7 linked regions of the Homo sapiens genome follow. The protein of the gene in region 5 interacts with the protein of the main gene of each other region in a biochemical or structural test. Each region holds a gene or a part of one and is shown on either strand. Other genes may lie near its edges.

Region 1 (3,500 bases), on a different chromosome or scaffold from region 5:
TGTTGGGATTACAGGCATGAGCCACCATGCCCAGCCAAGATAGTTTAAACAGCCCTGGCCTCAACTTCTTCACTCTGTCTGTGGGTCTACTAGGAGGGGAGATGCTACTAGGCTCCTCCCATCAGTCTAGGTTGCCCTTGAAAACCTTGATCCCCTGAGCCTCTGCCCCTCTCCACCTACAAGCCTCACCTGCACGGTCATGAGAAGAGACCACCAGTGGCTGACTCCAGGGTCCACAGCCAACTGCATTGGAGACGCACACACGTACGATCAGGTCCTTTTGGGGATCCCAGCCTGTCAAATTGGCCCTGGTCCCCTCCACTGTCAGCTCATCCTGCAGCCAGGAAAAGCCCCCACCCCATAGTGAGCCTGGGGAGAAGGCCTCCAGCTGGGGCCTGAGGACAGAAAAAGGTCCAGCTGGGAACATGGGAGTATAGGGGCACTGTGGGTTCAGGGGCTGCAGGAACACAACCTTCTGGGAGTAATCACATTCCTGTTCCCGGCTGCAGGGGCCTCTCCAGAACACAAACAAGGCTCAGTCCCGGAATGCACAGGTGGGGGATGGGAGCGAACTGAGCTGGGGACAAAGCCTTATCTGTGCCCTCCCCCAGCTCAAGCAGGAATGTGCTTCCTGCTTTATTTACAAAGTGCACACAGGATGCAACCCTAACAGGAGACATAATCCTTTGAGAAGTGGAGCTTGCAGAGGAGGGTGAGGAGGAAAGGATTCCCTGGGGCTGCGGGAGACCCAGGCCCACCAAAGACAATCATTTTGAAATTCTTAAAGGCCTTAGAACCCTGAAGGCTTATACTCCAGGAGAGTGGAGAGAGGGGAGGGTTCTGTCTTACCTGGGTTCCATTGTCTTGAACCCAGGACAGTTTGTAGGGTCCCAGGGGGCCTTCCAAAGGGGCCTCGGGGATCACTTCTTCCCACTCCAAGATGAGGCCTGAATCTGTGCGGATGGCATGGAGGTTTTGGGGAGCGCTGGCTGGGGCTGCAGCCAAAGAGAGAAGATTGCTAAGACCCCTGCCCTTCCCACCATCATAATTCCATGCAGACCTTTGGAATCAACTCCCAAGAACTAAACAGCTCTGAGAGGCACAAACTGGGGAAGGGTTCACCTCCCAGCTCTGACTGCTCTCACCCACTGTGCTGGGGGAGGGGTAAGCAATGGGCAGGACAGGCAGCACCCCAGCTCGGCAGTGTTGCTCTTCATCACCATGGTTACTGCCTTTCTGCCTCACCCCTTACCACTCCCCTCTCACAGCTATGCCAGCCTCTTTGCAATTGCCAAGCAAGTTCCTGTCATAGGGTCTTTGCACTTGCTGTGCCTTCTTCCGGCAGTGATTTTCCCCCAGATATTTACATGGCTTCTTCTTTATCGTTCAGATCCCAGATCCTTCAGATCTTTATCCTTCAGACCTTTTTAGGGGGGGTTTCCTTAACCACCTGGGGACACTCTTTATCAACCACATTATCTGATCTTTTCCAGTTTGCTTATCTGTTCCACCTACAAGAACTACTTACAAGGTGGTATGTAGTTATATGCAGTAAATGTTTGCCGAATGATGCCTGAACCTCCATCTCTACCAGCACCATTCAGAACTCCAGCCAACACGGCCCCCTTCCCGGCTCCAGCCCTGCCCACCCGCTCTGCTCTATGCATCCCTTACCTAGACCCTTGGTCTGAAAGGGCACCCAGTCAGCATAGGGAGAGGGCCCCAAGGCATTGGCACAGCGCACCCTGAGGCTGTAGTTGGTGGCAGGCACCAGGTCCCGGAGCAGGCAGGTAAAGGGGGGCACAGGGACCACAACAGCCAGGACTTCCCAGCCTCCTGGGGCCTGTGTCACCTACAGAAAAGCAGAAAACTAATGATGTAGGGGAGAGCCTGTGAGAGATGGAAGATGGGATGGGTATAGTTATGGGTGCTTGAATGAATGCTTCCTCTATCAGCAAACACTTGCAACCCACGCCCTCCCATCTGCCCCCACCCCAATAATACACAGGGTTCCACATCTTCATACCTTTGCAAATGCTGTTCCTTTCACTTGGAATGACCTGCTCTTCCTAGCAAAGGCCTACTCATCCTTTAAGACTCAGTGCAAATATCACTTTCTTGGTGAAAGCCTTTCTCAACCACTCCAGAAAACTCTTGTCCTTTTGTACTTGGTACGAAACTCTTAGGGTATACTTACCACTTACTGTGCCTGTTTACATGCCACTCCAAAGTTCTAGAGCTTCTGAAGCTCAGAGAAAACTGGGAGCCTAGGGCACTATGAACCAGCCCTTCATCTTACATTTTGGGGGCCCAGGGCAAGAGTACAAAGAGATCCACGTACTATATGTCTAAATATTTAAACATTATAAATCAGCTAACAAACTATTAAATAGTTTCTCTCTTAATATTTTGACCAATAAACCTTCAAAACAACCTGGGAGATCAGGTTTGCATTTGTAACTCTCCAAATCCCTGGAGTCCCGAGTCAGAATGAGGAGGCACTGGAAGAGCTGGCCTGAAGCCAAGGTCTGCACCATGAGGGGCCTCATGTGCACAGGCGTGGACAATGCTGACTGCATATCCAAGCTCCATTCCCATCCCCCTCACGAATGGCTGCCCCTTGGGCTTAGAGGTGGTCATATCACACTGCGGTCCATCCTTGGGAAGATGGAACAGGGAAAAGGCCCACACAGACCCCAGAAGCAGACTCAGAACCATTAGGGCAAGAGATCCTGAATAGCTATAGTATAGTGTGGCAGTGAGGGGGTCCTTGCCATCTGGATGGGCATATCCTCTTGGCCCTGTAGGCTCTTTGCCCCGGGGAAAGGGGTGTGGCCAAAGGAGGGCCAGAGTAGGATCCTCTTTTTTTTTTTTTTTTTTTTTTTTTTTTTAATAGAGACAGGATCTTGCCCTGTCACTCACTCAGGCTGGAGTGCAGTGGCATGATCTCGGCTCACCGCAGGCTTGACTTCTCAGGCTCAAGTCATCCTCCCACTCTAGCCTCCTGAATAGTTAGAAGTACAGGCGCATGCCACTGTGCCTGGATAATTTTTGTATTTTTTGTAGAGAAAGGGTTTTGCCATGTTGCCCAGGCTGGTCTTGAACCCCCAGGCTCAAGCAATCCTCCCGTCTCCACCTCCCAAAGTGCTGGGATTACAGGCATAAGCCACTGTGCCCAACCTCAGTAGGGTTCTCTAAATGGTGGAGCCCAGAGCAGGGGCCCCTCCTGCCCAGGGGAACTGCCCAGAACAGTTTTGAAAGGTACTCATTAAATGGCCTTTGAGTAAACGGATGAAAATGAGCAAGCCTGCATTGCCTCTTGTTTTTAGTATCACCTTACACAGTTTTTCCACTCTCCAAGGCTTAGGGCCCCTTCTGGTCATCTTGTTCTCTTTGGCTTGAGTGGGGGTTGGGGGGTAAGGTGGAGCATGATAGGGTGAGTATCAGCAAAGGTTTGAGCTTTCACCTAAGTAAGAAAAACTCGTCTGGGTGTGCTGGTT
Region 2 (4,290 bases), on a different chromosome or scaffold from region 5:
AAATAATAAGAGCTATCTATGACAAACCTGCAGCCAATATGATACTGAATGGGCAAAAACTGGAAGCATTCCCTTTGAAAACGGGCACAAGACAGGGATGCCCTCTCTCACTGCTCCTATTCAACATAATGTTGGAAGTTCTGGCCAGGGCAATCAGGCAGGAGAAGAAAATAAAGGGTATTCAATTAGGAAAAGAGGAAGTCAAATTGTCCCTGTTTGCAGATCACATGATTGTATATCTAGAAAACCCCATCATCTCAGCCCAAAATTTCCTCAAGTTGATAAGCAACTTCAGCAAAGTCTCAGAATACAAAATCAATGTATAAAAATCACAAGCATTCTTATACACCAATAACAGACAAACAGAGAGCCAAATCATGAGTGAACTCCCATTCACAATTGCTTCAAAGAGAATAAAATACCTAGGAATCCAACTTACAAGGGATGTGAAGGACCTCTTCAAGGAGAACTACAAACCACTGCTCAATGAAATAAAAGAGGATACGAACAAATAGAAGAACATTCCATGCTCATGGGCAGGAAGAATCAATATCATGAAAATGGCCATACTGTCCAAGGTAATTTATAGATTCAATGCCATCCCCATCAAGCTACCAATGACTTTCTTCACAGAATTGGAAAAAACTACTTTAAAGTTCATATGGAACCAAAAAAGAGCCCGCATACCAAGTCAATCCTAAGCGAAAAGAACAAAGCTGGAGGCATCACCCTACCTGACTTCAAACTATACTACAAGGCTACAGTAACCAAAACAGCATGGTACTGGTACCAAAACAGAGATATAGACCAATGGAACAGAACAGAGCCCTCAGAAATAGTGCCGCATATCTACAACTATCTGATCTTTGACAAACCTGAGAAAAACAAGCAATGGGGAAAGGATTCCCTATTTAATAAATGATGCTGGGAAAACTGGCAAGCCATATGTAGAAAGCTGAAACTGGATCCCTTCCTTACACCTTACACAAAAATTAATTCAAGATGGATTAAAGACTTAAATGTTAGACCTAAAACCATAAAAACCCTAGAAGAAAACCTAGGCAATACCATTCAGGACATAGGCATGGGCAAGGACTTCATGTCTAAAACACCAAAAGCAATGGCAACAAAAGCCAAAAATGACAAATGAGATATAATTAAACTAAAGAGCTTCTGCACAGCAAAAGAAACTACCATCAGAGTGAACAGGCAACCTACAGAATGGGAGAAAATTTTTGCAACCTACTCATCTGACAAAAGGCTAATACCCAAAATCTACAATGAACTCAAACAAATTTACAAAAGACAAACGACCCCATCAAGAAGTGGGTGAAGGACATGAACAGACACTTCTCAACAGAAGACATTTATGCAGCCAAAAAACACGTGAAAAAATGCTCATCATCACTGGCCATCAGAGAAATGCAAATCAAAACCACAATGAGATACTATCTCACACCAGTTAGAATAGCGATCATTAAAAAGTCAGGAAACAACAGGTGCTGGAGAGGATGTGGAGAAATAGGAACACTTTTACACTGTTGGTGGGACTGTAAACTAGTTCAACCATTGTGGAAGACAGTGTGGCGATTCCTCAGGGATCTAGAACTGGAAATACCATTTGACCCAGCCATCCCATAAGTGGATATATACCCAAGGGATTATAAATCATGCTGCTATAAAGACACATGCACACGTATGTTTATAGCGGCACTATTCACAGTAGCAAAGACTTGGAACCAACCTAAATGTCCAACAACGATAGAGTGGATTAAGAAAATGTGGCACACATACACCATGGAATACTATGCAGCCATAAAAATGATGAGTTTATGTCCTTTGTAGGGACATGGATGAAACTGGAAACCATCATTCTCAACAAACTATCGCAAGGACAAAAAACCAAACACCGCATGTTCTCACTCATAGGTGGGAACTGAACAATGAGAACACATGGACACAGGAAAGGGAACATCACACACCGGGGACTGTTGTGGGGTGGGGGAGAGGGGAGGGATAGCATTAGGAGATATGCCCAATGTTAAATGATGAGTTAATGGGTGCAGCACACCAACATGGCACATGTATACATATGTAACAAACCTGCATGTTGTGCACATGTACCCTAAAACTTAAAGTATAATAATAATGAAATAAAAAAAGAAAAAAACTGTACTGAGAAGACTTTTTGCTTATTTAATTGGAGATAAATTATCTAGAAAATATATTTCCCTTCACCCTGTATCAAACTTGAGTTGAAACAAGGAAACTGAGGTGGTTATGTGACTTTGAGACACCTGTTTTTTATGTTTGCCAATTAACTCTTCCCTCTACTCCCACCCTTGGCTGCCTTCATCCAGTTAAGAAGACATCAAAGAAATAAGGAGTCTAGTGTGATCAGTCAATGTAGTTGACAAAAATAATTATCCTGTAGCATATTTTAAGAAGGTAACTAGAGCTTCATTTTTGAGACTTGATTTTTATTTGTTTGGAAATTAATAAGACCAAGATTTGAAACTTTATATTTAAATATATAAAGGTATTATTTTCTCTACTTTATTTTTAACAGTATATAAACCTGAGGCTCTTCTACTCCCAGAAGGAATATTTACTATGTTTTAAGGGCTCAGAATGTAAGCGTGTGGAAGACACAGAGCATAAAATTCGTAATATTTTTCAAGACCATCAAAATCTTCTTCCGTGAAAATTTCTTACATAAAATATATGTAAAAATTAGAGAATCTCAATGGTTCTTACCTGGATTTAGAATCCTACAGCAACTGCAACAAGTCCACCCTTTATTCCTCTTAAAGTAGTTGGCTTTTTGAAAACAAGTCCAGTGATGATTAACCACCTTATTATGTCATTGCTCTAGTCAAACATATAAAACCTAGTTAGTTTTAAGAGTTCACTCCAGTTGCCAATATTTAAAGATTATATTTCTCAGAATTCTCACATTATTTTTTGTTAATCTTAACAAGTAAACCTTACTTTTGGGAATGGCTTTTACTTGTTTATTCAATTAAGTTGGTGGCATAAGATTTTTTTCTTTAAAAATATGAGTACAATAAATTATTCCAGGTATTTAAAACTTCCAAATAGGAAATAATTTAAGACAAATAAAAAATATGCCTACAGGTTACATTGGCATTTAAAAATTAAAATATACCCTCTTTGCTTGGTACATAAGTATGGTTCTAACGTGGTATGTATGGAGACTGGAGATACCACCTGGAATAAGAGAGTCCCAATTAACTGCAAGACCATTTTTCTGAATGATGAAAATTAAGACTGCTTTATGCGATAGATTCTTTACATCAAAACAGGAAAGAATTATTAATATCACAGTTTCCTTTTATTGACTTGACTTGTGGAGAAAGGAAGAGCTTAACTCAGTTAAAAGTTTTCTTGAGTAGAGATGAAGTTTAATTAATTCAATAACTCAAACATTTTAGACTCTCAATTATACCTTGGACATTAAGCTCTCTTCTGAAATAAAGTACAGACCCTTCTCTCACATAAATATATATATTTCAGAAAAGTGTGAAGATATATGTATGTATATACACACAAACATACATGTATACATATATACACACTTTTACCTGTATACACATATGCACATATATATATGTGGTAATGTGAGGATGCATATATGAGAATATGGTTACCCCTTATCATTCATGGGACATTTGTTGATATGGTTGCAGCAAAATGTATTTGATGTCTGTGCCACAGTTATCTGATTGATTAGTTCTATTCTTGGTTAATTATTGAGAGTATTGGAATCATGAGACAAACTAAAGAGTAGTGTAGAGGGGAAGAATGACTGTGCAGAACTGAGAAATGTAGACCCAAGGCCAAAATATTAGAGTAAGGCTTCCAAATACTCTGCTGAGTAAGAATCTACTGGCGAGTTGTCAAAATAGCAATCCAGTCCCATACCCAGCAGATTCTGGCTCAGGAGACCAAAGATTATGCCTGTTAAATAAGCACTTTGAAAAATTTTCATGTACTGCCAGATTTTGATATCATAACAGGAATGCAGAACATTTTCCATCATTTTTATGGACTTCCTTTTATTCACAATGGGAATACAGTTTGGGTTTTCTCAGGCTAATGGTTTTCTCCTCAGACATCCATTTCATTGAAAACACATCAACATGTTTGGAGACTAATATATATATTATATACAATGAAGATAAAACAGTACAAACTAACTAACAACCTTTATAATCCTGAGCTAAAGGTGCCAGTTGTAAAATTCTCCAATATTTTCAGAGGTCAAAG
Region 3 (3,476 bases), on a different chromosome or scaffold from region 5:
TGGGGTCAGGGCCCTGGAGAAGGGGCCCGGGCCCCAAGTCACTGGGCTGCAGGAGTTTGCACTTGACATCCCAGCTTCATTCAGGGGCTTTGAATTCTTCTCCATGTCCATCCAGAGAGGGAGATCGGTCCTTTTCTTTTTTTCCTTCTTTTTTTTTTTTTTTTTTTGAGTTGGAGTCTCACTCTGTTGCCCAGGCTGGAGCGCAACCTCCATCTCCCGAGTTCAACAGATTATCCTGCTTCAGCCTCCTGAGTAGCTGGGACTACAGGCACACGCCACCATGCCGGACTAATTTTTATATTTTTAGTAGAGATGGGGTTTCATCATGTTGGCCAGGCCGGTCTCGAACTCCTGACCTCCAGTGATCTGTGAGACCGGACCTTTTCAATGAGGCCATTTCACCACCTAAGCGGGGGTGGGAAGCTTGGAGGAGGAGGGACAGAATCTTCCTCTTTCTTTGTGTAAAGCTACAGATATCTATATATGCAGGACCTAAACAGACGCACAGTATTAAAATTTCATGGGAGTGGCGATTAGGGAACAAAAATGGCTTTAGACATTTTAGACAAGGCTTCTTAAGGAAGCGATAATGAAAAACAGTTGTCCAAGAAGGTGTAGCCCTCAGGCCCTGCCATACCCAGATCCGCCATAGGAGGGCGGCACTTCCCAAGCGCGGGCGGTCTCAAGTCAGAGTGACGCCAGCGCAAAGGAAGCTCTTTCAGAAAGCTCTGCTGCCTGTGAGCTGGAGCCCACTCACTCCTGCTGCTCCCACGAAGCTTCCCATCCATTTACTTTCTGCAAACCTTCATGGAGCGTCATTGGCCTTGAAGAAGCAGCAATGGAAATTCAATTCCAGGCTCTCCAACCAGACTTTGCAAAGTGGATCTTTGCAGCTCCTGCTCTGATCACGCCCTGGTTTTGTGGGTAAAGGCAGGGTTCCTTTCCAGTCCCCAATCCCAGCTGGTACTCTTGAGGGTCCTAGGTCAGAGGCTAGAGTGGGCCGCGTCCCGCCAGCCCTGGGGGACACCTGGGTCCTTCTCCGCCCCACCCATCCTGCTCTGCCCTCCAGGTCCTGTCCCCTCGGTGGTGAGGACCGAGATCTTCCTGCAGTCCTCCCGGCGGGCAGCTTTCATGGTGGACGGGGCAGTGCACTGGCTCACCAACTTCATCATAGGCTTCCTGTTCCCATCCATCCAGGTGAGTGAGGGCCCCTTCCCCAACCCGCTCCACCGGGCCTCCAGGGAGTAAGATGTATTCCCCTTCCGCTAAGCACATCTGTGAATCCAGCAAGGTGGGGACAGGCTCTCAGACACATCCAAGGGTCCACAGACACACGTGGCCCCACTGCCTGCAAACCCTTGAAGACACCGGTTTCTCAGTTACTGAAGGGTGATCCCCTGCTGACATTGTAAAGGGCTATTGCTTAGGGGCTCTGGTCCGCGGAGCTCAAAGGCGCCAGCAAACAAAGCCAGAGCCAGGGTGCAGATCCCCCACCGCTTCCTTCCTCTGTTCCGAAGACAAGATGGGCCACAAACTCTGCGCTCTCAGCACCTTCAGGGCACAGAGGCCATAAACCCCTACTGTCAAAAGGTTAAGCAGTCTTTTTTTTTTTTTTTTAGACAGGGCCTTGCTCTGTCACCCAGGCTGGAATGCAGTGGTGCAACCACAGCTCATAGCAGCCTTGACCTCCCAGGCTTAAGTGATCCTCCTACCTCAGCCTCCCAAGTCGCTGGGACCACAGGCATGGGCCACCACACATGGCTATTTATTTATTTATGTATTTTAGGGATGGGGTCTTGCTATATTGCCCAGGCTGGTCTCAAACTTCGAAAGTGCTGGGATTATAGGTGTGAGCCACAGCACCCAACCAGATTCTTTTTGATAATAGGGTGAGGGGGAATCCAATTTCTAGCTTTTTTTTTTTTTTTCCTGCAAACAATCTTTAGTGATCACAGTTTTCTAGCTATATCATTCCTCCAGGAGTGAAACAAAACTGGCTGCCAAGCAACTCCTTTATGGACTCACAAAGGCCTCGACCAGCATTGGTTATTTGTTGTTTGTTTTGGGGTTTTTGTTTTTGTTTTTGTTTTTTTGAGACAGTCACGCTCTGTTGCCCAGGCTGGAGTGCAGTAGCGCGATCTTGGCTCACTGCAACCTCTACCTCCTGGGTTCAAGCGATTCTCCTGCCTCAGACTCCCAAGTAGCTGGGATTACAGGTGTACACCACCATGCTCAGCTAATTTTTGTATTTTTAATAGAGACAGGGTTTCATCATGTTGGCCAGGTTGGTCTCAAACTCCTGACCTCAGGTGATCCACCTGTCTTGGCCTCCCAAAGTGCTGGGATTACAGGCATGAGCCAACGTGCTCAGCTGAATCAGCACTGTTGCCTTTCTCTGCCCCCTCCTGTCTTTCTCGTCTCCTGGTCTAGGAGGCCATCGGTGCCTACAGTTTCATCATCTTTGCCGGAATCTGCCTCCTCACTGCGATTTACATCTACGTGGTTATTCCGGAGACCAAGGGCAAAACATTTGTGGAGATAAACCGCATTTTTGCCAAGAGAAACAGGGTGAAGCTTCCAGAGGAGAAAGAAGAAACCATTGATGCTGGGCCTCCCACAGCCTCTCCTGCCAAGGAAACTTCCTTTTAGTGGCCCTGCATGAAGGACGGGAGCCCATATTCAAGGCTTCCTTCTATGACAATGGGCCTCCCGGCCCCAGGCTCTGGGGAGGATAATAGCACGGAGGCTTTTGTCGTTGCCCCCATTTAACTTAATTATGGATATTATTAAATACCCACAACAATGCATATTTAGCTGAGAAGTTCCAAGGCTAGCCATTGAGGAATGACCTGGAGGAAGGGGCCGGCACGTGAATTTTGATTGGTTAAGACTCGATTTTCCGATTCTACATTGGCACCAAAATTTAAATGATGTATAGATGCACTTTTTTAAAGTAAAACTTTTCAAGTTCCACAATTGCTATGGATACCCGAGCTGCCGTCATTGCATCAATTAAGGAGTCCAAGGCTCTGAATGCCATTGCCTTCCTGGCGACGTGGCTTCCTTTCTCCACCCCGTGGCTGCAGGTTGCACCGTGAATCCCAGCCTGCGTGCCCAGCTCTGTCCTGTCGATCACAGGGTGAAGGGGGCCAGCCCCTCGACACCTGTGGGTATTTCTCGTCAGGTGGGATGAGAGACTGAAAAAAGAAATAAGACACAGAGACAAAGTATAGAGAAAGAACAGTGGGCCCAGGGGACCGGCGCTCAGCATACGGAGGACCCTCACCAGTACTGGTCTCTGAGTTCCCTCAGTATTTATTGATCACTATCTCTACTGTCTTGGTGAGGGGGATGTGGCAGGACTATAGAGTAATGGTGGGGAGAGGGTCAGCAGGAAAACATGTGAGCAAAGGCTCTGTGTCATAAATAAGTTTAAGGAAAGGTGCTGTGCCTTGATGTGCACATAGGCCAGAGTT
Region 4 (3,500 bases), on a different chromosome or scaffold from region 5:
TATTTTATTTTAGAGATGGAGTTTTGCTCTGTCACCCAGGCTGGAGTGCAGTGATGTGATCTCGGCTCACTGCAACCTCTGCCTCCTGGGTTCAAGCGATTCTCCTGCCTCAACCTCCCGAGTAGCTGGGATTGCAGACATGTGCCATCACGCCCAGCTAATTTTTGTATTTTTAGTAGAGATGGGGTTTCACCATGTTGGCCAGGCTGGTCTCAAACTCCTGGCCTCAAGTGATCCACCCATCTCGGCCTCCCGAAGCACTGGAATTACAGGTGTGAACCACCACATCTGGCCAATAACTATTTTAATTAACGAAAGTTAAATAGCCACGTCTAACTGGCAGCTGCGGTTTGGAACAGTGCAATTCTAGAGAATCCAAAGGGAGGGCCTCCACAAGACAGGTTCCTAAATCCAGACCGAGGACAAGAAGCAGGGCACTGTTCCCTGGACACTCACCAGCCACTATGAACAGAAAGATGCCGAAGCCCAGCACGTAGTAAGGCCACAGCACGGAGAACTGCAGGGGGCCGAGCTTCATCCTCAGAGCCTTGATCTCCAGGGCATGCAGCACCAAAGCCAGGAAGGCACAGGCCCCTGGAGGGTCACAGGGAGACACCCTCGGTCTCCTCCCATGCTACCCGCCTTCCCTCCAAACTTCACCCCCTGTGGCTCCTGCCTGGAGGCTCCTTCATCCTTGCCCCCTCTCTGAAACAAAACTCCTACCCAGATGCCTGTCCCTCCCTCCTTTCTGACTCATCTTCAAAGCCCATGTGCTTTACCTTCCAGGGAACCATCATCAGAACTCCCTTTCCTAGCACCCTCTGCATCTGCCCTTAGCTCACCTCTGCACCTTAGCAGAGGGTGCAACACTTTGGATTAAATGCAATCCCATTTTCCTACTGCTCTACCTCCACCATTTGCCTAGGAGCCTCTCAGGGTGGAGCCTGGGTCACCCTTTATAAATGTCAAAAGGGGCCAGGTGCAGTGGTTCATGCCTGTAATCTCAGCAATTGGGAGGCTGAGGCAGGAGGACCGCTTGACACCAGGAGTTCAAGGCCAGCCTGGGCAACATAGCGAGATCCCCATCTCTACCAAAAAAAAAAATGTTTAAATTAGCCAGGAATGGTGGCACATGCCTAGAGTCCCATCTACTTGGGAGGCTGAGGTGGGAGGATCACTTTAGCCTGGGAGGTTAAGGCTGCAGTGAGCTATGATAGCACCACTGCACTCCAGCCTGGGTAACAGAGTGAGACCCTGTCCCTAAAAAGAAAAATTATGCCTCTTTTGACATCACAGAGACTGAGCACCCCTCTTTCTCTGGACTCCTCCCCAGGCCCTAGCGAAGGTCAGGGATCACCTAGCTGTTCCACACCTGTGAAGAAGCTGATGCAGGCTAACACAAAGTTTTGCTTCCAGGTCCTCGGGAAGAACTCGGATGCAAAGGGCATCATGATGAAGGTGGTGACGAAAGCCAAGAAAACTGCAGAGAGCAGGAAAACCCGGCCGAGGATGATGTAAACTGCAGGGGAGGGAGAAGTGGGGCTGAAGCTGGGAACCCTGACCCGGAAAGGTCAGAGTCCCTCAGAGCCTGGGCAGGGCTGGCCCCCGGAGCCTCCACCACCCTTAGATCCCAAAGCATGGCCTTGGGACCAAGGTTGTGACCATGCCACTTTGGCCCCAAGAATGCTTTGGCCCCACAATTTGATTCCCAATGGCATAGAAATATAGGAAAAAAAATTAAATTGACAATGTCAGACACTGAAATCACCAGTTCTTAATAAACATATTTTTTCTTTTTTTGAAACAGGGTCTCCCTCTATCGCCCCAGCTGGAGTGTGGTGGTGCAATCTCAGCTCACTGTAACTTCGACTTCACAGGCTCAAGCAATCCTCCTGCCTCAGCCTCCAGAGTAGCTGGGACCACAGGCATGTACCACCACACCTGGCTAATTTTTTTATTTTTATGTTTTGTAGAAACAGGGTCTTGCTCTGTCGCCCAAGCTAGAGTGCAGTGGCACCATCATAGCTCACTGCAGCCTCAACCTCCTGGGCTCCAGCGATCCTCCCATTTTGGCCTCTCAACGCGCTGGGATGACAGGCGTGAGCCACCGTGCCTGGCCTTAACAAATGTTATTATGGGAATTTGGTTGTACCAAACCATGTATCATCCACTAGGGGAAAATGGTGGTTTTAAAAAGCAACACAAAATCAAACTCTTGTGATAAAATTTGTTGCACATGCAAATGTGAAGAATCACACCTGTATTGGTTACCCTGAAGTAATTCGCCTGTGGAAAATCAAAACTTTGTGAGGTCAAAATGTTCTGAACGCTGAGGGAATCCCCACATCTTTATTTAATTTTCCTAGTTAATAGGAGTGAGACTGGGTGCAATGGTTCACGCCTGTAATCTCAACACTTTGGGAGGCTGACGTGGGAGGATTGCCTGAGGCCAGGAGTTGGAGACCAGCCTGGGCCACATAGTAAGACCCCATCTCTACAAGAAATTTTAAAAAGTTGGGCACGGTGGGGCACACCTGTAGTCCCCGCTACTTGGGAGGCTGAGGCAGGAGGATCACTTGAGCTGAGGAGATGGAGGCTGCAGTGAGCTATGATCACACCAGCCTGGGCAACAGAGCGAGATCCTGTTTTTACAAAACCTAAAATTAAAAAATTAGCTGGGAGCTGTGGTGCGCACCTGTAGTCCCAACTACTCAGGAGGCTAAGGTGGGAGGATCGCTTGAACTCAAGAGTTGGAGGCTGCAGTGAGCTGTGATCACACCAGCCTGGGTGACAAAGCGAGATCCTGTTTTTTACAAAACATAAAATTAAAAAATTAGCTGGGAGCTATGGTGAGCACAGGTAGTCCCAACTACTCAGAAGGCTGAGGCGGGAGGATCGCTTGAACTCAGGAGTTGGAGGCTGCAGTGAGCCATGATCACGCCACTGCACTTCAGCCTGGGCAACAGAGTGAGTCCCCATCTGTAAAAGCAACAACAATAACAGAAGTAGTGAAATAGACCAAAATTAGCAGAGCCAGAGTCTGATAACAGGGTGATTTGTTCTCTGACTGCTGGCATGATGCAGACCCATGTGAAAATGAGTTTGCATACCCTCCTGAGCTGGCAGAGGTGGGCAGCTGGCAGTGGGATAAGGAGTCAAAGTTGCTGTTGAAGCCCCAGATATCCCAGAGTCTACCCTTGGGTTAACCAAGCCTGGTTAATTTTTTGTGTTTTGTTGTTGTTGTTGTTGTTGTTGTTGTTGTTGTTGTTTTGAGACAGGGCCTCACTCTCACTCCCAGGCTGGAATGCAGTGGCATGATCACAGCTCACTGCAGCCTCGAACTTCTGGGCTCAAGCAGGAGCCCTCCAACCTCAGCCTTTTGAGTAGCTGGGACTACAGGCACATGCCACCATGCTCAGCTAATTTTCTCATTTTTGTAGCAACAGGGTTTGGCTATGTTGCCCAGGCTGGTCTTGAACTCCTGGCCTCAAGCAATCCTC
Region 5 (3,500 bases):
TTTGTCTATGTGCTTCCACACTTCTGTAGCCCCCAGTTCTCAGAAGTGATGGGGATGGAGTTCCTCATGGAAACTAAAGTTAGCAATAATTAGCATTTAGTGAGCACCTACCAGGGGCCAGGCACTGTGCTGAGTGCTCTGTGCACATCCCATTGCATTGTCTCAACAACCTGGTGGTAAAGAAGTTAGTATTATTTCCACCTTAGATCTCAGGAGACTGAGTTTCAGAGATGTTACATGGTTTTCCCAAGGTCACACAGCTAGTAAGAGGCAGAGCTGGAATTCAAGGCTCAGGCCCCTCTATCTACCAAGCCTTTAGGAAGTATCAGGCAGTATCATATAAACAATGAAATCTGGGCTCTGAATTTTCTGATTTTGACCAGGGTCCCCTCAACTCAATTAAAAGAGAACAGAGGAAAGGTGCTAGCTTTCTGCTGAACTGACATTTTCTTCGCCCACCTGGTACACAGTAGGCACTCAATAAATGATTATGCTGAACTGACCTAGAGGAAAAAGGCCACTGAGGACCTCCCCCTCCACTGTGTGCACTGGGAGGAAGGGCAGCAGAGAAACCCCCTCACCTGCCTTACCAGTTGGCAAGGCTATCTCTGTTCTTATCTGACTGGGACACAGCTCTGTAAAGACCTACAAGACAGATAGCAACAGACACACCACAATACTTTCAAGTGCATAGGACAAAGAAATCCAGGGCAAGCCCCAGAGAATGGGTGATGACCTCAGATGCAAAGTATGTAGTGAGCCAATTCTGGAACTTCAGCGAATTTCACAGACTAAACAGTGGGAGGGAGCGAGCACTTGGGACTTGTGCTGACTGAGCAAGCAAAGTTACCAGGTGACTGCTGGGCTCACAGGAGAATCTTTCTTTGTGGGAATGCACTAGAAATACACCAGCAAGCTGAGATCCCCCCATACAAGCAGCATGGCCAGTTAGGCAGCTCCTCTGCCTTAGGCTGTTGGTTTTCCCACTGTTTCTGGGTTCAGCCTCAAAGAGTGCGGGGTGGAACAGAAACAGGACCCTCTCTGCTGAGAAAATCTGCAAAGAGACAAATTTTGATACTCGGCAACTACTGCAGCCAAAGAGTCTGGGCCAGGGGCTAGAGGAAAGGCTTAAACAGCCACCTGGTAGTTTCAGACTCAGAGGAGGGAGCAGGCAGGGAACATGAGAGAAGAGAGACATTAATGAAGGAAAAATAGCCAAGGCCATACTAAAAATATTTCCCAGGCACATATTTCTCCCAATGCATAGCAGCTCTTTCAATTAAGGATGTGTCATTTCCTGGGTTACTAAGTCCAGATCATGGAATATTCCACTCTGGGACAGTAAAAGAGGGTCATGTTCTCAGCCTCCCCAGCACCAAAGCAGCTAAAAACAGGGATCACAGGCCCCCAGTGTTTCCACCACTCCTGAGCTGCTTGGAAGCTTCCTCTCAGGGTGTGTCTGTGGAAAGCCTAGGGGGACCAGTATGACACCGTTTCTCAGGTATCTCAAATGTCCCCACAGTCGCCTGGAAGAGAATCATCATCTCAAGCCAGTAAGCCCTTGCAAGAACCAGAATTTGAGGGAAGAAGAAACATTGGTGGAGACTGCCTTGGTTACTATGATAAATGGCCAGTAACCTTTAACATCTTCTAAAGCCAAAGTCACACAGAAAAAAGTCTGCCCTACCAGACTCAAAGAAATGTTAAAAGAAATCTTAGTGTCAGCTGGGCGCAGTGGCTCACGTCTGTAAGCCCAGCACTTTGGGAGGCCGAGGCAGGCAGATCACCTGAGGTCGGGAGTTTGAGACCAGCCTGATCAACATGGAGAAACCCCATCTATACTAAAAACACAAAATTATCCGGGCGTGGTGGCGCATGCCTGTAATCCCAGCTACTCGGGAGGCTGATGCAGAAGAATCGCTTGAACCCGGGAGGCGGAGGTTGTGGTGAGCAGAGATCACTCCATTGCACTCTAGCCTAGGCAACAAGAGTGAAACTCCGTCTCAAAAAAAAAAAAAAAGAAAGAAAGAAATCTTAGTGTCCTCTCAGTGTCAGGCACAGGGAACAGGGATGCACATGTCATGGGTGTCCAATGACATCTGTCTCTCTCTGGGGAGGGGAGGGGTGACTATATGCAAGGAATGCCCAAGGAGCCCTTGAGAGGTGTTGCTACAACAGCCCTTTCCAAACATTTAAGTAGTTTGGAACCTCTAGTATCTTAACCTCTCTCAACCTGCATTTGAAGCCATTGGTTTGCAATTTAATTACCCTAAGAGTTGAGCAGGTTCTTGTTAAAGGTGAATTGGGGAGAAACTGAATGGCAAAGCGGGCTTCAGAGGCAATACAAAAATTGATGATTCCAAGTGAGAAAGGTTCTCAGAGCTAAGGCAAGTTTGGACCACACAGTGTTTTCCAACAAAATTTAAATGTCACCAATAATTAAAAATCAGGAGATTTCCGAAAAAAAGAGGCTTTCCAACTTCTGTTTTAATGGAAATAATTAGCAGAAATGAGACCTGCATGAGGCACGTGGCTGGAGCCAAGGAGCAGCGTCCCCTCCGGACCAGGAATGCACGCTCCAGCTGCCACCCCCACCCCCACCCAGCACCCTTGTTTACTCAGAGCTCTGCCTCAGTTCCTCATCCTGCCTGCCACTTTTGGGTATTTGAGTGGGCAATTCCTAACCTAGTCCACCCACTTTACACCTACAGAGAATTGGCCCCATCTTTAACCCATCCTCAAACCCAGTTCCTTTGCTGGGATTCCCAGTGTTTCTGGATTCATCCTCAAAGAGCCTGAGATGGAGCAGACACTGGGCCCCTCTGCTGGCAAGATCCAGGAGACTCCAATAAAGACTCAAAGGGCTTGGTGGCTCATGCCTGTAATCCCGGAAATTTGGGAGTCTGAGGTGGGAGGATCACTTGGGCCCAGGAGTTCGAGACCAGCCTGGGCAACACAGTGAGACCCCAATCTCTACAAAAAAAAGTAAAACTTAGCCAAGTGTGGTGGCACACACCTGTAGTACCAGCTACTCAGGAGGCTGAGGTGGGAGGATCACTTGAACCCAGGAGGTCGAGGCTGCAGTGAGCTGTGATCAAACCACTGTACTCCAGCCTGGGTGACAGAGCGAAAGCTTGTCTCAAAAAAAAAAAAAAAAGACTCAAAGGCAGCTGCAGCCAGATGATCTGTGACAGAAGAGGACATGCCTCCTCAGTCCCCAGCAAGGCACTTCCTCAGACACCTCTCCCCTTTCCACCTGCAGCCCTACCTCTCCCCCAGTTAAGCCTGCCTCTGTCCCCAGATCAGAACCTATTCCTAGGACAAGCATTTATATCCTCAGGGACCTCTCTTCTTTCATGACCTCTGGTCCACTCTAGGGAAAAAGCAAACACTGCTTCACCAAAACTATGCAGCATGAAGTATTTCTCCCTTGCTTAGTTCAGATGGTGGACATAAGCACAGGCTACTCTAGATTCCCTCAAACACTCCCCGACTAATAA
Region 6 (2,902 bases), on a different chromosome or scaffold from region 5:
GTAAAATTAACTAAAAGAGCATATATGTTCCAGATTGGAAGTGATAATGTAGTAAATATTGTCTTTTATATTCCACAAACAGGAAGAGTAATTCTTCATCTAAAGCCACGACAATGAGTGAAAATGTGAGTATCTTTAAAGCATATTTATAGAATGAATATGTTTGGGGAATAGGGCAGGGAAATGAAGTAATTATATGGACTTTGTGAATTTTCACTTTTAATACACTTTGCACCAGTGTCTATCACTGGTGTTTAAAAGGAGCTAAGTAGATGTTAGCTTCTGTACCCTGTCTAGGATGGCATGATAAAGATACCTGGCATTTCCAATAGCAGAAGTGATCTTTAATCATATCATTATTTGTTTCATGGTATTTTCTATAATTAGTCTGCCTTCTTAGTATCACTAGGTCTGGCATTATCAGCTCCCTTTGACAGATGAGTAAATTAAAACACAGGTTCTTACAGGGTAACAGTGGTGGAGCTGGGACCCAGGCTCTTTTCTTCCCTGTAGCTTGACCAAGCAGAGTGGTTCCAGCAGAGCTGTGGTTCTAGGACTCACCTTTGGTTATGTGAAGCACTTGGAACATTTTAGGGCTATGCAATGTCTTAGTCATTTGGGCTGCTATAACAAAAATACCATACACTGGGTAATTTACAAACAACAAATTTATTTTCAGTTTTGGAGGCCAGGAAGTCCACAATCAAGGCACCAGTAGACTCAATGTCTAGTGAGAGCCTGTTCCTCATAGATGGAGACTTCCTGCTGTGTCCTCACATAGTAGCAGGGGCAAAACAAGCACCCTCTGGCCTCTTTGGTACGGGCACTAGCTCCATTCATGAAGGTCCTGCCCTCATCACCTAATCACCTCCTAAAGGCCCCACCTCTTAATAGTATTGCATTAGGGATTAGGTTTCAACATATGAATTTTGGGTGACACAAACATTCAGACCAGAGCACAGAATATCCTGTTATAATTGAAAGGAACATTTCAGAAATGTTTGAAAAGACGCAGTAATTACCTAACTCAGAGGTTTTAAGGAACATAATTTAGACACTTGGACCCTTTGTAAACACTACATTGATGCAGCAAATACCATTGTTACTCAGATTTTGTAGCTCTTTGGATGGATATTCAGCCTTCTGGATGATTTTCTCAGGAATATAGTGGGTTGGGGCAGGGGGAGTTCCTATGGTTTTAGAGGCCTAAGTCGTTTCTTGAGAAACAAAGCATGGGTTCTCAGAAATGCTTTACTCATCTATGGCAGGAATTCTGTCAGATTTCTTCTCAGTAGAGTCTGGGGGGTGGGGTGGGGCGGGGGAGCCTGGACATCAGTATTTTAAATGCTTACCCACTTTTCTGTAAAAATTTGATTTTCAAAAACTGTTCCAGAAACTATTACAGAATTCACCTTATTTTGTGGTTTACTACACTGAAAGCTTACTGATGTTTAATTAGGGGACAAGAAACTTTGTTCCCACCATTTTTGTGCCTACAATTTATGGAAAGTCTTTGTTTCTGCAATTTACAGAAAGTACTCTTGGAGTGTGGAATCGAATACTCCCATCCCTCCAAACAGTATGAAGCACATTGTGGCTAAACTGAATGAACAAAAGCCATTTATTTTTTCTTTGCCTTCCTCTCAGTTGCCCTTATCAACTAACAGCTAGAGTCCCCTTCAGTTCTCTTGTGCCCTACCACAGGGTTTCTCAACCTCAGCACTACTGATATTTTGGGCCACATCATTCTTTGGTGTAAGGTGCTGTCCTGTACATCATAGGATGTGTAGCCACAGGCCTGGCCTCCAACACCAGATGCCGGGGCATCCTCCTAACAGGATTTGTCTGCCTCTGCCTTCCAGTCCTACCTCTTTACTCTCTAGGCAAAGCTTCAGAGTACCTTGTCTGCTAGGAGTTAGTTAGTTAATTCCCCATAAAACAAGTTTAATTAAATATATACTGGTTTTGGCCAGGTGCAGTGGCTCACGCCTGTAATCCCAGCACTTTGGAAGGCCGCGGCGGGCGGATCACGAGGTCAGGAGTTCTAGACCAGTCTGGCCAATATGGTGAAACCCCATCTCTACTAAAATACAAAAATTAGCTGGGCATGGTGGCATGTGCCTGCAGTTCCAGCTGCTTGGGAGACAGGAGAATCACTTGAACCCGGGAGGCGGAGGTTGCAGTGAGCTGAGATCACGCCACTGCAGTCCAGCCTGGGTAACAGAGCAAGATTCCATCTCAAAAAATAAAATAAATAAATAAATAAATACTGGTTTTTACCTGTAGAATTCTTACAATAAATATAGCTTGATATTCATAAGATTTATGTTTCTTTAAATATGAATTCATATATTTAAACCTGTTTTTTCTTTCTTTTCCTAGGATTTCAAGCACACAAAATCCTTTATAATTTAAAGACTCCACTTTAGAGATACACCAAAGCCACCGTTGTTACACAAGTTATTAAACTATTATAAAACTCTGCTTTGTCCGACATTTGCAAAGAGGTACACGAGGAAATGGAATTGGTATTTCATTTTAATTTTCATGACTACTAACTCACCTGAACTTGCTATTTTAAACAAATAGTTCTGTCGACACCTAAAATATAATCTGGCTTCTTGTGTCTGGACTAAGTTAAAAGAATTAAAATACTTTGTAATGTCCTGGGCTTTGGGAAATGTTAACCACGTCCTAACTTCTAGAGAACGTTACTAAAATATAACATACTGATTGTGAAGTCAATCCACAGGTCATGAAAATATAAATCAGACTCTGCACGAGAGTCTGATTTAGGGGGTCCAACAAATACTCTGACAGATGCAAAAGGAACCTCTGGTCTCATTTCTGCCAGAATCCTCTTTTCTCCCCTAATATCATCCTTATTCTGATGCTCGTTCAT
Region 7 (4,058 bases), on a different chromosome or scaffold from region 5:
GCTGACGTTCCTTTCTCAGTAGTGGTCATAGAGTAAGTACTGGTGACGGTGGTCACTGGCTTCTGTGTCACGGGAGTCGAGGTGTAAGAGCTGGTGAAGGCCACCTGCGTCGTGGTCACACAGATGGAGGTGGGGTGGGAGATGGTGATTATAAAGCTCGTTGGATACACGCACTCAGTGGTGGCTGAATAGACCAACACGGTGGGTGGAGTGGTTTCAACCTTGAAGGCAAACTTGGACGTCGGGGTGGTTGAGGTGTTGGAACTGACTGGAGAGTTGAGCAATGTTTCAGAGATGAGTGTGTCATGGGGGGAGGTAGTGAGTGTCATAGGTGCATTTTCCCTGTGGCCAGGAGCAGGAGAGGCGAGCTGGGGGACACCAAGTGGCCACCCAGCCAGGTCTCTGGAGTGTGGAGAATTGCTGAGCACAGCGCTGGCTGCTTCTGCTCTGGGGAAAGGCACTTGAGAGATGGATGTGGCCGTGGATAAAGTTCCTGCATTGGCGGCAGAGCAGAGGAATCCACTGGTAAATCCGTGGGTCATTTTGTTACATCACTCATGTAAGCTACTCACTCACCCATTTTCCAGGCAGCATCACAGAGGGCAGGGCATATTACAGCTGACTCCTGCATCAGAGGCAGCTTGGAGCTGGGTGCTTTGTGGTGCTGGAGACGACTGCCTGTCTGCTCCTAGGGGAGCAGTGGGGCATGGGAGCCCTCATTCCTCACCGGGCCTTGGCCTTGTCATGGCAGGTCCTCCTGTCCTGATATAGCCGAGCTGGGCAGAGCCTCCCTCCCCTCCCTTCCCTCCTCTGGTCACACCCAGGCTCCTCCTCCCTCTGCCCCTTCCTCTCCTCCCCCTGCTACTGCCTGGAGTGCTCCCATCCCCCCATTAACCTTCTGCTCCCACCACTGCTTCTCCCGGCACCCTGCTGCTGTCTGGGCTGACTCCGCTTTCAAAGAGAAAAAGAGAGAACCCAGCCATGTCCTGGCAGGGGGCGCATCACAAAAACCAGGAGACAGGGAAAGCTGAACAAAGAGGGCCAGGCACGGTGGCTCATGCCTGTAATCCCAGCACTTTGAAAGGCCAAGGCAGGAGATCACTTGAGGTCAGGAGTTCGAGACCAGTCTGACCAACATGGTGAAACCCTTTCTCTACTAAAACAAAATACAAAAATTAGCCAGGCGTAGTGGCGTGTACCTGTAGCTGAGGCAGGAGAATCGCTTGAACCCAGGAAGCAGAGGCTGCAGTGAGCTGAGATGGTGCCACTGCACTCCAGCCTGGGTGACAGAGCAAGACTCCATCAAAAACAAAAACAAAAACAAAAACAAAAAACTGCCCAGAGAACACCAAAGAGAAACAGGCTAAGCTCACACACTAATGACTTCAAAGGGCATGGAGTGAGGACTAGGTGAAGAGGCAGAGAGACAGCATAGAAAAGGAAACTTCCAGAAGGAGCTACCTCAGCAGTCAGGCGTGATGAGTTCTGGAGACCTTAAGGCTTAGCAGTGAGTGTTCATCACACAAATAGACATATTTTTCTATACTATTCCCTTTTGGCCGTGGGATTCATTAGTTTACAAGCATGAACCCCAGCATGTGGATTTCAACCCATTTCACAATTTGTCAGAGTTAGGATCAGAGATCCGGCTGTCGGGGGTGTCAGGGACAAGGAAGACAGGCAGCCACAGCAGATGGGAAGTGGGAGGTACCCGACCTGCTACCCCTCACCTCGGGCACAGCCCATCTTGTGGCTGAGAGCTGGGGTGTCACGTCTCAACCTAGCTCGTGGGTGCCAGGGAAGTGGGGTCAGGGATTATGAGAATCCCCAGGCTACAGCCCTTGGCTCCAGGATGTGGCCCTGGAGGTGACTGAGAAGGGGACTCATGGGCCTGTAGGCTGGGTGGCCTGGGATCGGGGATCAGAAGCAGACACTGAAGTACAGAGAAAAGAGAAGTATAGAGGAATTGCGAGGTGTTCCTGCAGGGCAGAAGAGAGAAGCCTGGGACCCCACGACGGGTAGTCTCAGACGCACCCTTGGAAGCGAAGTGGACATCAGGAGCTCCCTGCCCCGGCCCTGGTACCAACAGCTGTACCCAGACACATGGGCCCTGGCCGGGGTAAGAGAGTGACGGCAGAGCTGGGGAGGAGCCGCCGGGGGACAAAAGGCAGAGAGGCTGAAACCAGAGGACCGAGACCAGGGGTAGAAGTTAGAGGGCTGTCAGGGAGGGAGAGGCCAGTGTGAAGGGGACACTCAAGCTGGGGGCGTGAGGCAGGTGACAGAAGGAGTCAAGACAGGAAGGGCACTGCTCTGGGAAGACGTAAATCCCACCCTCTACCCTCCAGCTGCAGATACAGATTGGGGCTCAGCCGCTGCAACCTGCTCAGTGCTTGGTGGAGAGTGGCAGAGACCCAGCTCCCTCACTCTTTCCCAACCTCGGTTTTCCCTGCACCTGGAGCTCTGGAAGAAACCTCTCCTCACCGCCCCCTCCCCCAGTCAGGCCGTGCCTCGGTTCTCCCTGCACCCAGAGCCCCAAGCGGTGCCTTCTTATCCCCCCTCCCCAGGCCTTACAGCCACTTTTCCCTCCCCTTTCCTGGAACATCACATCAGGAGCTTTTCTCCAACCCCCTTCCGCCTCTCCCCCTTACCTGTGGCCCACGGGGAGGCCTTGAGCATCCAGAGGAGGCCGAGGAGCCCCAACAGCTGCATGGGCCCAGCGGGCAGGGGGCTGGGGCAGAACAGGCTTCAGGACCAAGACAGCGGCAGGGACGTGGCCCTGGGGCGTGCACGTAATGAAAGTGCTGGTTATCGGTTTTGCTGAGCGTCAGGGCTGAGCACAGCCTCACCTTTGCACCGCCCCACCTCTCCCCTCTTCCTCCCTTCTCCCTGCACCCGGACAGACAGACGTCAGCGCTGTGGGAAGCGGGACACGGGGGAAAAAGATAGGACAAGTCCAGGAAGTGTCAGGCAGGAAGAGCTGCTATTGGCTCAGCCCCACAGCCTGCCTGGCCCACATGGAACTGCCTGGAAGCTGCCCTTCCTCCCCGACACCCGTGGAGGGTACCCTTGACCGAGGGCTTGGACTCTGGAGTCTGGTCCTACTCCTGCAGCCTCTCCTGAGTTTCAATTCCTCCTGCTGGGGAGACAGTGGCACCTCGCTCTCCTTCAAGCCCCTTCTGTCCCTCAGTCTGCCCCTGCTCCATCCTGTCCCCCGCAGGACCCCATAGGCCAGAAAAAACCGTGGGAGTAATTAACACAGAATTCCATCTGAAGTCATTTTATTATCTGAAGAGTTGGGGCTAGGTCCCAGAAAAGGAAACATGGATGACCAAAGGAAACACTCAAAAATACTAGTCTGGGCCCGGCGCGGTGGCTCACGCCTGTATTCCCAGCACTTTGCAAGGCTGAGGGGTGTGGATCACTTGAGGTCACGAGTTCGAGACCAGCCTGGGCAAAATGGCAAAACCCCATCTCTACTAATAGGCTGAGGCAGAAAAATCGCTTGAAACCAGAAGGTGGAGGGTGCAGTGAGCCAAGAGCACACCACTACACTCCAGCCTGAGCAACAGAGCGAGACTCCATCTCAAAAAAAAAAAAAAAAAAAAAAAACTGGTTTGGACCCAGCACATTGTTTGACCTATCCAGTTTGGGCAAAGGTGTGAAGAATAAACGTTCTTACCCAGCTGGTGGATGTGTAGGTGGGTTGGGTTGTTTTAAAAGAGTAATTTGAGGATCACTTGAGGTCAGGGGTTCGAGACTAGACTGGCCAACATAGTGAAACCCCATCTCTACTAAAAATACAAAAATTAGCCTGGCGTGGGGTGGGCACCTGTAATCCCACCTACTTGGGAGGCTGAGGCAGGAGAATTGCTTGAACCCCAGAGGCAGAGGTTGCAATGAGCTGAGATCGTGCCTCTGCACTCCAGCCTGGGCAACAGAGCGACACTTCATTTCAAAAACAAGATAAAGTAAAACAAATGTTCTTATCCAGCTGGTGGGTGTGTAGGTGGGTTGGGTTGCTTTAAAGGGGTAATTTGGTGGCATCTATTAAAATTTTA

The links.
Region 1: the proteins of PDLIM1 (region 5) and TYRO3 interact in a test that uses a peptide from one of them, tested with the Homo sapiens proteins (one large-scale study listed by IntAct).
Region 2: the proteins of PDLIM1 (region 5) and SLCO1B1 interact in a test that uses a peptide from one of them, tested with the Homo sapiens proteins (one large-scale study listed by IntAct).
Region 3: the proteins of PDLIM1 (region 5) and SLC2A7 interact in a test that uses a peptide from one of them, tested with the Homo sapiens proteins (one large-scale study listed by IntAct).
Region 4: the proteins of PDLIM1 (region 5) and TMEM225B interact in a test that uses a peptide from one of them, tested with the Homo sapiens proteins (one large-scale study listed by IntAct).
Region 6: the proteins of PDLIM1 (region 5) and JAM2 interact in a test that uses a peptide from one of them, tested with the Homo sapiens proteins (one large-scale study listed by IntAct).
Region 7: the proteins of PDLIM1 (region 5) and MUC3A interact in a test that uses a peptide from one of them, tested with the Homo sapiens proteins (one large-scale study listed by IntAct).

Annotation. Positions count from the first base shown.
Region 1 is NC_000015.10:41,565,712-41,569,211, reverse strand, and holds part of TYRO3 (tyrosine-protein kinase receptor TYRO3 isoform 1 precursor), read right to left. Parts: intron 1,853-3,500; coding exon 1,675-1,852; intron 996-1,674; coding exon 850-995; intron 335-849; coding exon 190-334; intron 1-189. UniProt on the Homo sapiens protein: Receptor tyrosine kinase that transduces signals from the extracellular matrix into the cytoplasm by binding to several ligands including TULP1 or GAS6. Regulates many physiological processes including cell survival, migration and differentiation.
Region 2 is NC_000012.12:21,129,704-21,133,993, reverse strand, and holds the start of SLCO1B1 (solute carrier organic anion transporter family member 1B1), read right to left. Parts: upstream 2,801-4,290; 5' UTR 2,758-2,800; intron 1-2,757. UniProt on the Homo sapiens protein: Mediates the Na(+)-independent uptake of organic anions.
Region 3 is NC_000001.11:9,002,473-9,005,948, reverse strand, and holds the end of SLC2A7 (solute carrier family 2, facilitated glucose transporter member 7), read left to right. Parts: intron 1-1,069; coding exon 1,070-1,197; intron 1,198-2,430; coding exon 2,431-2,649; 3' UTR 2,650-2,976; downstream 2,977-3,476. UniProt on the Homo sapiens protein: Probable sugar transporter. Even if its physiological substrate is subject to discussion, it is able to transport glucose and fructose. Does not transport galactose, 2-deoxy-d-glucose and xylose.
Region 4 is NC_000007.14:99,604,767-99,608,266, reverse strand, and holds part of TMEM225B (transmembrane protein 225B), read right to left. Parts: intron 1,520-3,500; coding exon 1,373-1,519; intron 595-1,372; coding exon 457-594; intron 1-456.
Region 5 is NC_000010.11:95,260,004-95,263,503, forward strand, and holds part of PDLIM1 (PDZ and LIM domain protein 1), read right to left. Parts: intron 1-3,500. UniProt on the Homo sapiens protein: Cytoskeletal protein that may act as an adapter that brings other proteins (like kinases) to the cytoskeleton. Involved in assembly, disassembly and directioning of stress fibers in fibroblasts.
Region 6 is NC_000021.9:25,712,258-25,715,159, forward strand, and holds part of JAM2 (junctional adhesion molecule B isoform 1 precursor), read left to right. Parts: intron 1-82; coding exon 83-125; intron 126-1,973; coding exon of another isoform or gene 1,974-2,048; exon of another isoform or gene 2,049-2,317; intron 2,318-2,382; coding exon 2,383-2,415; 3' UTR 2,416-2,902. UniProt on the Homo sapiens protein: Junctional adhesion protein that mediates heterotypic cell-cell interactions with its cognate receptor JAM3 to regulate different cellular processes. Plays a role in homing and mobilization of hematopoietic stem and progenitor cells within the bone marrow.
Region 7 is NC_000007.14:100,948,276-100,952,333, reverse strand, and holds the start of MUC3A (mucin-3A precursor), read right to left. Parts: upstream 2,801-4,058; 5' UTR 2,710-2,800; coding exon 2,649-2,709; intron 494-2,648; coding exon 1-493.